2 linked regions of the Homo sapiens genome follow. The protein of the gene in region 1 purifies or fractionates together with the protein of each later gene. This does not show direct contact. Each region holds a gene or a part of one and is shown in the gene's direction. Other genes may lie near its edges.

Region 1 (3,829 bases):
GATAGATTGGCTAAAATTGCAGAACAGATCTGTTTTCTCACTTCTCCCTAGTGTGTTGGATGTCGTTATACCTTTTTATGGAAGAGGAAACTATGGCTCTGATGGGCTTAGTGTGGTATAGTAGTTTTGAATACAGACTGTGGAGCCCAACAGCCCTGGGTATGATTCCTGGCTCTGCCACCTGTTAACTGGGAGACCATGACAAATGACTTTCTCTGCCTGATCCTCAGTCACTTGTAAAACTGGTTGACTGTAGGTACCTAACTCTGTGGTGATCTTAATTTCTAAATGAAATCACTAATGGAAAAGGTCTTGTTGGTACTGATACCGGTTTAAAATAAACACCTCTCTTTTCTTTGTATTTTAAGCCCAGTGGGCAAATCCTTTTGATCCATCCAAGACAGAAGACAGTTCCAGCTTCTTAATAGACAAGACCACCACTGTTCAAGTGCCCATGATGCACCAGATGGAACAATACTATCACCTAGTGGATATGGAATTGAACTGCACAGTTCTGCAAATGGACTACAGCAAGAATGCTCTGGCACTCTTTGTTCTTCCCAAGGAGGGACAGATGGAGTCAGTGGAAGCTGCCATGTCATCTAAAACACTGAAGAAGTGGAACCGCTTACTACAGAAGGGGTAAATGCCTTAGAGGATGTGTGGGTGGAAGGTGGGCATAAAAGTGCAGGTGAGACAGAGTTCAGCAGAAACCCAGAGGCAGAAGAATCACCCTGAACTACCCAACAGCTATGTATGATCACTAGAATATGCCAAGAAAATACTGTCTACCAGGCCCTTGGCTGGGCATTCTACATACTTCATATCATCCAAGCACATCAACAAACCTACAAAGGAGGCAGTATAATTGGCATTTTTCAAATTAGGAAGTCTGGTCTTGAAAGATAAGATGAGCTCCCCAAAGTCAGCCTATTAGTAAATTGATGGCTTCCTGTAGACCAACTAGAGCTCAAAGAACAGGTTGGATTTTGATGTTGAAAGGTGATTGGGCAGCCACTCTGTACTGGAAGTGCAAGGCAGAAAACTGTGAAGCTCCTGGGTGCTACCCATTAACCTTCATGCCACTAGCTCCCCAACCTTGGTCGTCACCTCAGGGATATTTTCTCTTGATTATAAAGGAGTTACATCTCCCTACTCCCAGTGCTTCAGTCCAACATTGGCTGTACCTGAGTGCATTCCTTTCAGAATAACTTCTGTGAGTTTGGTGCCATGTATTGACTTACATAGTAATGGTTATCAATACTCAGGGAAGAAGCAGAGTCCAATATAATACCATCATGAGAGAGAGAAGGAGAGAATCATAAGCTTGATATGGTGATTGCCATGTGTTCCCTTCCTCTTTTCCCACAGATGGGTTGACTTGTTTGTTCCAAAGTTTTCCATTTCTGCCACATATGACCTTGGAGCCACACTTTTGAAGATGGGCATTCAGCATGCCTATTCTGAAAATGCTGATTTTTCTGGACTCACAGAGGACAATGGTCTGAAACTTTCCAATGTAAGTTGATAAACTAGAGTTCTTAAATGTATGAACTGGAAGAGCAATTAGGAGTCAATTGATTCAACTTTCTTATTTTACCAATTAGCAATCTGATGCCTAGAGAGGCGGTGTGACTCCTCCTAAGCTAGAATCACTCCAGAGTCATTCCCATTACTCCAAATAAGTAATTGTATCAGTTTCTTCCATCCTTGACCTTTATGTCCCAGAATTACTCTGATAGAACAGCTTAATGATCAGAAGTGACTCTGGTGAGATGCAGTTCTGAAGGAGGTGTGAGGAGGGAATGCTTAAGAGGTGACTCCTGGCGGCAGCAGGCCATAGTGAATGAGGTGTTTCCCAATGGCTAGCCGTAGAATCGCCAGAGAATGATTGACTACATTTAGCAGAGGAAACTTCATATTCTAGCACCATCAACATAGTATAGCAAAGGGGCGGCCCCACCTTTCCTTTCCCTTTCTTACTTCTAGACCTTCCCAAAGACTGTTCCTGTTTCTTCAGAGACCCGCAGGATTTGTTCTCCCCACACAGGCTGCCCATAAGGCTGTGCTGCACATTGGTGAAAAGGGAACTGAAGCTGCAGCTGTCCCTGAAGTTGAACTTTCGGATCAGCCTGAAAACACTTTCCTACACCCTATTATCCAAATTGATAGATCTTTCATGTTGTTGATTTTGGAGAGAAGCACAAGGAGTATTCTCTTTCTAGGGAAAGTTGTGAACCCAACGGAAGCGTAGTTGGGAAAAAGGCCATTGGCTAATTGCACGTGTGTATTGCAATGGGAAATAAATAAATAATATAGCCTGGTGTGATTGATGTGAGCTTGGACTTGCATTCCCTTATGATGGGATGAAGATTGAACCCTGGCTGAACTTTGTTGGCTGTGGAAGAGGCCAATCCTATGGCAGAGCATTCAGAATGTCAATGAGTAATTCATTATTATCCAAAGCATAGGAAGGCTCTATGTTTGTATATTTCTCTTTGTCAGAATACCCCTCAACTCATTTGCTCTAATAAATTTGACTGGGTTGAAAAATTTTCCCTTTTCTGTCTTCTGGGGAATAGCTAAAAAGCAGGTCAGGTCTTCGTATCCCAGTACTCCAATAAGATCAATGGACATAAAACAATGCAGATGCATTGTCTTATATGTGAACTTCTCAACCCCCTTCCCACTGTCCCATTAGTAGGATTCTCTGAGTTCTTGCCAGATCTGACACTGGTAGGTTGAATAAAGGAACTCCCACTATGGGGATGAGTTACAGACTGAGACAACTGAACAAGTTACTGAACAAGCATGGGACAATACAGCAAGAGATAAACTTGCCTGTCCAACCCCACCTTCCCCCCAAGAAAACATACTTCCACCTTGCCAATGTATAAGCTGGGAGTGGAGAAAGAAAGTAATTCATTCATGTCATATCTCATAGACCCTCTTTTTCTGTATCCCAATCAGACTCCTTTCCATATATAGCACCCCTGTCCCACTTGTTTAAGTAGGAATCTCCTTTTTGGCTCTAATTTCACTGAATATTGGTACTTTTGTATCCCCAGATCCTTCAACAACCTTCCCTCTACCTGTACATGCCAACTCATTACCACCTACCAAACTAGATTTTATTTCAGACACTATGTATTTAAAGCTTGAGTATAAATGGCACAGTGAGTGGTAATGATGTAGTATCTGAAATTCTAGCCCTGAGGTAAAACACTTCAGTGACAGGAAAATAGTAAAAAAAATGCATAAGTACTGTTGCAGATGTTGTACTTCCATATTGAAATAAATATTTATGTTTAGAAAAGCATGTGTATTACAAACATTCTAATTTTTTCTGATTAGACCCATTTGCATGGAAGTTTGTTTATTCCTGGTATAGTTCACACTTTGCTTTTGTGTAAGCAATTTTTGAAGCCCAGAGCAGAATCTCTGGTACAAAAATTCATTGTTAACATGGAGTTGTGTTTCACTAAAGTTACATTACAATCCTGGCCCTGCTACTTAGTGTTTGGTGATCTTGGACAAGGCACTTAAACCCTGTACCTTATTTTCTTCATCTGTAAAATGGGAACAATAAGAATATCCATGTCATTGGGATTTTGTGAACCTTCAATGTTGCAAAGCAGGTAGCATGTAATATGCTCATCACAGAGCCTGAGACCTGATAAAAAGCCCTGTAAATATTAGTTGTTTCAATCATGTTGGTCAACACCAGACAGTGGGCTGGTATCAGAACCAGGATTGTAATGTGAGTCTCTTGATTTGCGGGTTTCTGTTCTCTAGCTCAGGCTCTACCTCCAGAGGCCAGAGTAAATGT
Region 2 (7,047 bases), on another chromosome or scaffold:
GTCCCTGTTACTCCATCTTGGATGGAAGCTATAGTCCTCAATAAATGTTTGACTCCATTCTCTAAACACTGAGTGATTTTATCATTGGCAATAGATTCTATCATTGGCAATAGATTTTATCATTGGCAATAGATTCTAGGTTCTTACTGGTAACTTCAGTGTTAGACCTTCTGGATGTTCATGGCTAGGCACCATGGCAAGTTTACAATGATATATGTTATTGCGATGTCTCCTATTTGTTTCAGTTATCTCTTGTTTTCTCATTTAGACTGCAAATTCCCTGAGGTCAGAAACCCTCCAATGTTACATTTCTATGTATCTTCCACCCAAAACTAGGCAAATTTATTTTTAACTCTTACTTAATCTTTACCCATTTGAAAATTCCATTTGAAGTGTTACCAAATAATACATGTAGGATTAGAGTTTATGTTAAACATCAATGCCACATATTCAAACGCTATGAGTGAAAATGAATTCTGATTCATCCCCTAATTTTATATATGCTAGGAGGAAGAACCACCACCCCTACCTTCACTATGGTCAGCTGAGAACTGTCTTCTAATTATCCACCAGGCTTGTCAATATCTTTTTAAGAAAATGATTTTTTCAAAAATGTAAATAAATCAAAACCCTATAAAATCTACACACTTAAGTAGCTAGTTCTTCAGTAACAGAGAGCTCTGACCTTTCATGTAAAAGCTTTTGTAAATATTAGTCAAAGTGAATATTATTCACTTTGTAAAGTAATAATATTCGATTAGATCATGTTGGAGTTTTGTTTTTTTCATCAATTAATTGTTATTAATTCTAATCTAAGGAGAAATAAGATAAAATCATGTTTTAAATCTGCTTTAATATTCTGGTAGTATATTGGGAAAAAATACATGCTATTTCATCCACTCCCTCTGCAACAAATACACCCTCATTCAACAGTAAATACATTTCAGGTTCTGTCCTTGGCGGTAAGGATGCTACTGAGGGGAAGACACCAAATGCCTTGTTTTCATGGTATATTCCCTTTTGGTACTATTCATTTTATGGAGGCTTTATTTAGGTTAATAGCATAATATATTTATAATGTGTGAAGATCTGTGGGTTTATTCAACAAATCATTTGTTGAGTACCTTATATATTCCAGACATTGTTCTAGGCACTGATATTACAGCAGTGAACAAAACAGACAAATCCGCTGCTTCCATGGAGCTTATATTGGAGGTTGGGTGGCAGTAAAGTAGATAAACATAAGGCAGGTGGTAAACGCTCTAAAGAAAAATAAAGCACAGTGATGAGCCAGCTAGTCATGAGAAGGAGTTCTGTTTTACGTAGGGGTATCAGGGAAGGCCTCACTTGTAAGATATGGCACTGTTACAGAGACACGATGAAGTGAGGAAACTAGTTAGCCAGGCAGACTATTTGGGGAATTATTCCAGGCTGACGGAAAATTGCAAGTGCAGATACACGAATGCAGGATTAGGCTTGGTGTATCTGAGTGGAACCAACAGAGCAAGGGAGGAGTGTTAGGAAATGAGGGTAAAAGGGCAGAGGAGTAAAATTAAATAAGACAGTGTACTCCATAAAAAAGTAATTGCATTTTACTTGGAAATGGGAAGCCATGGGAAGGTTATGAGCAGGGGAGAGGCATGACCACATTTATTTCATAAAACAATTGCTTTAGCTACTATTGAGACTATGACTTTGGAAGGGCAAGAGCAGAAGCAAGAACATGACAAGGCTATTGCAGTTATTCAGGTGAGAGATGGGTGGCCTGGCCTGCACTGCTGGCACTGGAGATGGGGAGAAGTGGTCAGATTCTGAATGTATTTCAAATGTTTATGCTGAGTGAAAGAGTCAGACAAAAAAAGAATGTATACGATATTATTCCATTTATATCAAATTCTAGAAAATGCAAACCAATCTGCAGTGACAGAAGGTTGTCTGAAGACAGCTGGGACAAGGGAGGGAGGGATTATAAAGGATCATGAGAACTCTTTCAGAGGTGATGTTGATGAATATGTTAATTAACTTCATTGTGGTAATGGTCTCATGGGTGTAGACATATGTCAAAAATTATCATTGTACACTTTAAACATGTGCAATTTATTGTAGGTTAATTATACTTCAACAAAGCTATTAAAAAAGACATGGGATTGTCTGATGGATTGGACTTGGGTGTGAGAAAAAAGAGGTCGAGGATGGTTTGTATGTTTTTGGCTTAAGCACCTAGAAGATAGGAATTAAATTGTCATTCCTATTCCTCAAATAGGGAAGACCGAAAGGAGCAGAGTTTGAGAGAAAAAGATAAAGAGTTTGGTTTTCAACATATTGTTAGAGATGCCTATTAGACACATCTAAGATATTAAAACAAATAAATACACAGTAGAAAAGAAATGAAGAATGAACAGAACTACTACTTGGATAGAAAGTGCTTGTCCGTGACCTTACCAAATGTATATTTCTCAAGACAGCATTGGAATTACATTGGCCCAGTAGGAACTCTCACGGCTCCTACAGACAAAAATTTGTGAGCATCTGTTTACCGTTTTTTCCTTATTCGATATAATGGATTGCACAGACAAGCCACATTCTTTCTTCTTGCTTTTAAGTAATACGATTTGTTTGGGAAACCAGCTGCTGGGTTTGTTGTTCAAGGTTGATGAGTAACCTTAGAGATTGCAATGAGAAGCTGCTGGTCACAGACAGATGCCAAGTTCTTCAACCAGGGCTGGAGAGCATTGTAGCCACTCTTCTGGAGAGCATTGTAGCCACTCTTCTCTGGGCTGACCTGCTCATGCAGTCCCCCGCTTTTTTAACTGCACATATAAATCATCCAGTTATAGTATGATTTAAATAAGATTTTGCTTCCCTGCTCAGAAAGAAAGTACAAAAATTGCTTGTTGCTTGATGGAGGCTTTACAGAGCTGTGATTAAAAAGGAGCATACTACCTGGGTTTGAATCTTAGCTCCATCACTCACTAGGTGTTTGAATGCCTTAAGGTAGTCATCTCTGAAATGGGGATCATAATAGGACCTACTACTCTAAGGTGCGATTGTTGTGAAGATTAATCTTAATTCTGGCATGAAATAAGTATAAAATGGAAGCTCATCACACTGTTATTAAATTAATTTACTTTTTTCCTATGGATATAGATCTAGGAATCTCAAGATCTCAGCCCAAGGACCATTACCCATTTCTATCAACGACCAAGCAGGCCACGGGCTCTGATTTATATCCTCAGCCCCCTATTCCACTCACCTCCCCCTTTCTTAATCAAAGAGCACCACGGGATGGTGCCCCCAAGGAAGCCCTGGGAGGCTGAAAAGGAGGGAGCCTGAAACCAGAGACTAACAGTGGCAAATCGCGGGTGGGATTTGGCAGTTCAGAAAAGGAGGTACCATGCCAAGAGTGGGGGTAGCGGGGTGAAGTAGCGGGGTGAAGTGGGGGGCTGGTTCGGGACAGGCCACAAACCAGAAACTGCGAGAAGGCGCCAGAAGGGACCTGTTGAGATGGCGCAGGGTTGGGGGACCCAAGCGCGCGGGGAGGGGTGAACTAAGAATGGAGTCACGCGGAGGTGCTGCGAGGGACTGGGGCAAAGGCAGGTGATTGGGCGAGGGAGTCCTGGTTGCCACGGCAGCGACCAGAGGAGAAGGCTTCGAGGAGAGGAGGAGGCTGCTGTCAGTCCTCCTCCTGGAGGTCTCCCGCATCCCTCCTAGAGCCTCTGCTGACGTGTCAGTCGGAAACTGCTCAGACCTTCGCGGGCGCCGCCCCTCTGCGCTTGTCTTCCCACATGCCCCCGGCGCTCCGCCTGGTCCCTGCCCGCGTCCCTGCCCCCGTCCCTGCCCCCGTCCCTGCCCCCGTCCCCGCCCCGTCCCCGCCCCCGCCCCCGCCCCCGTCCCCGCCCCCGTCCCCGCCCCGTCCCCGCCCCAGCCCCCGCCCCAGCCCCCCCGTCCCCGCCCCGTCCCCGCCCCCGTCCCGCCCCTCTGCGCCCGCCCCGGCCTCCTCCTCCGCGTCACCGGCTCCCCGAGGTGACCACAACATGGCTGCGGCGCCTGGGCTGCTCGTCTGGCTGCTCGTGCTCCGGCTGCCCTGGCGGGTGCCGGGCCAGCTGGACCCCAGCACTGGCCGGCGGTTCTCGGAGCACAAACTCTGCGCGGACGACGAATGCAGCAGTGAGTGCGCTGGAGGGGCGGCTGGCCTCGGGGCGGCTGGCCTTGGGGTCTCCGCCGGCCCCGGGGGTCTCCGCGGCGGCGCCGCCTGGGCTGTGCGGGGACGGGAGTTCCGCAGCCCCTGGCCGGCCCGGGGGTCGCAGGCGGGATGGGCTGAACGCGGGGGTGGGCGCGCTCCGGGTCCCTGTGTCTGCCTTCTCCCGCTCTGCCTGCGCCCGGCCCCTCGGGCCTGACCATGGGGGCTGCACCTCCCACTTGTTGCCAGCGTTTTATTTTTCCTCTGCTGAGGCGGGGGGTTGCTTGCGGTGGTCCCCGGCTTCCCCAATAGTGGCTCACAGCGTCCCCTTCCCACCCCCCCAATCCGCCTGGGCTCGGAGGGTAGATGTGGTTGCGCGCCGCGCGTCTGGGCTCCCCACGCCGCAACCAAAGCTTTCCTGCCCGCGCTGCGGGGACCTCGGTGGGTGCATCACCCCGGCAGATGCGCTAAGGGCTCGGTGGGCGTTTTCCCAGTGGCAGGTTGATGGTGGGGTTTGTTTGGAAAGGCTCCCTGGCGCTGCTCCTTTGCCCTTCTGCTTTATTGGGATTTGGGCTTGTACCGCCTTTTGAACAGGAATTGGGAGTTTAGGTTTGGGACGAGTCTGGAGTCCAAGCACTCATTGTATTCCGAGGTCTCTGCCCCGACTTTGATCAATCCTGTCGTTTCTGTGCTTGGAAGCCGCCTTGCAGACTGCTAGGCAGGACTGCAGGAAGACCAAAATCTTTCGCTCTGCAGAGACCGAGGATCTGCACCGGCCACCTGGGACCGGCAGCCTCCTCTTCTGTGCGCAGGAAGCGGAATTGCTCTCCAGTCTGGGATTGGAGGTGGGCGGTGGAGAGGGCACAGATCTTCAGGCTCAGATGAAGAAGGTTATTACAGGAATGACAGTAAATACTCCAAGGGTCTCATAAGCCAAGCTTGGTTTAGCCTTAGCCGCTTGCGTGTTGAAACCTCTTCCCTCTATGTTCGCCGGACCAGGATCATTTTAGGGCCTCCCAGACCGTCTCAACCTTGTAACTTACTGATAGCCACTGCAGAAACGGTTTTTCATACACTGTTAAGCAATGCCTATAGAAACGTATTCATTTTAAGAAGGCCAAGAACTCTATGGTTTAGCTATTTATATTCAAATTGATGTTATCAAAACCGAATTTCATAATATGAACTGTTTGTATCTCTACAACACTAATCAAGAAAAGAGATCTCTAATGAGTGTGAAGCCATTCCTAGAGATAACCCTGTGGTTGATGTAAATAAACACTACAAAAGCGGTACAACTGCCATGATTTTTCCCTTTAGTTTTCTTGGGTCAAAGCCACGCTGTTACCCATTTGCCGTTGGCAATGGCAAGATAGTTGGTATTCTTTGCTTGCAAGCATTGCCCTGCCTGGGTTCCTCAAAACAGGTTACCTGGAGAATCATCACATCACTGATGCTTCTTCAGTACTGAGGCATGATGTTAGAAGAGCTCACGGTTGTAACATAACTTGAGAAATGGTACGTGTTCAGAGGAAACCAAATACAATAGGCATCAACAGGAGCAAGGTCTAGATGGGTCTGTGTTGTGTTGTAGAAAGTGTTTAGTAATGTGAGTATGTACGGTGCCCTTGTGTGGTTTTCAAATAGCTGTTCCACAGGGTGCATTTTGTTGGCATCTCAAATATTATTATAAATCCTCTATGATCTATTGTAAGGGGGAGCAAAAGAAACATTGCCATTTTCAATTCTGATCTTATTCCCAACCTTAAATTGTCCATCATCTTAAACCTGGCCTCACACTCAATTATATCTGAGCTACAAAGCTGACATGTTGGAAAGTAATCAGAGTTTAGCTTCAAAAAACAAGTAGCCCCTTCCAAATCTATATGCGTGTATAGCCATTTAAAGGCACGTTTTTAATGTATTTTATTGCAAATTGGCTTTTGGAAAAAATCTTATTTCTATTCGTCCTTCTTTGTCTCTGCTATTTAGATGTATTTATTGTCCATTTCATCTTACATGGGAAACTGTGTATGTGGTCAACAAAAATAAAAGTACTGCTTCAGCCAGTTTCTAGATCAAGCGTGATTGAATTACTGACCTATTCTCATAGTTTTGCTTAGTCCCAGCCAAATGAGATGTCGACTTTTGATTTTGTTTATAGAAAAATATACATAAGGGTATTCTTTCCTTTGTTTTGAAACTTAATTTTGGATACAGTCAACATTATTTACTTTCAGAAAATATTGCCTTGTGATGTAATTGAATCTATAGTAGGGTGTGATAGATATCTTTTCCCATTAATTTATCCAGACACTGTACTAAGGGAACAACTTGGCTGCAAATGAAATTGACAGTGTTTACTGCTACATAGTACTGGTTACAGTCACTTGAAGATAGACCCTTTTAGTGGTTAGTTCAAGTTAATTGACCTCTTGGGGGTTCCTGGGTACTCTAGTTCCCTATTACCCGTTCATGTAGCCATGCTTAAGTTAATCATCATCTGGGCTTGAATTTACCCATTTGCAAAAGGAAGCTTTTTATGAATATGAAACAGAAAAGATTGAGGACTAGAAGGTTAGAGAGGGAATCGAGAGTTTCACTTGGGTGAGAAAAGCCATGTGTGGTAGTTGGCACATTGCTTTTTGTTTCTCAGTATTATCCATAGAGAAAAATAGAGAAGGTTTTCCTTTCCCTTGTCTGCTTGCAGAAGGTATGATTTATAGCAGTAAAGCTCAAAGGATTTGAGATACTTTGAGCATATGAAAGAAATTCCAGAGAGTACTGGAAAAACTTGGTTGTTGTTTATAGTGGGATTCTTATATTTCCTGATAAATCAATATGCACTGTGAACACTGAATCCTGAT

The links. Proteins that work in one complex are often made in the same cells at the same time.
Region 2: the proteins of SERPINA7 (region 1) and MIA3 purify together in Homo sapiens (affinity purification with mass spectrometry; 3 studies listed by BioGRID and IntAct, with this or other methods). This does not show direct contact.

The regions. Positions count from the first base shown.
Region 1 is NC_000023.11:106,031,925-106,035,753, reverse strand, and holds the end of SERPINA7 (thyroxine-binding globulin precursor), read left to right. Parts: intron 1-368; coding exon 369-642; intron 643-1,371; coding exon 1,372-1,519; intron 1,520-1,989; coding exon of another isoform or gene 1,990-2,050; coding exon 2,051-2,254; 3' UTR 2,255-3,319; downstream 3,320-3,829. UniProt on the Homo sapiens protein: Major thyroid hormone transport protein in serum.
Region 2 is NC_000001.11:222,614,077-222,621,123, forward strand, and holds the start of MIA3 (transport and Golgi organization protein 1 homolog isoform 1 precursor), read left to right. Parts: upstream 1-4,020; 5' UTR 4,021-4,034; coding exon 4,035-4,167; intron 4,168-7,047.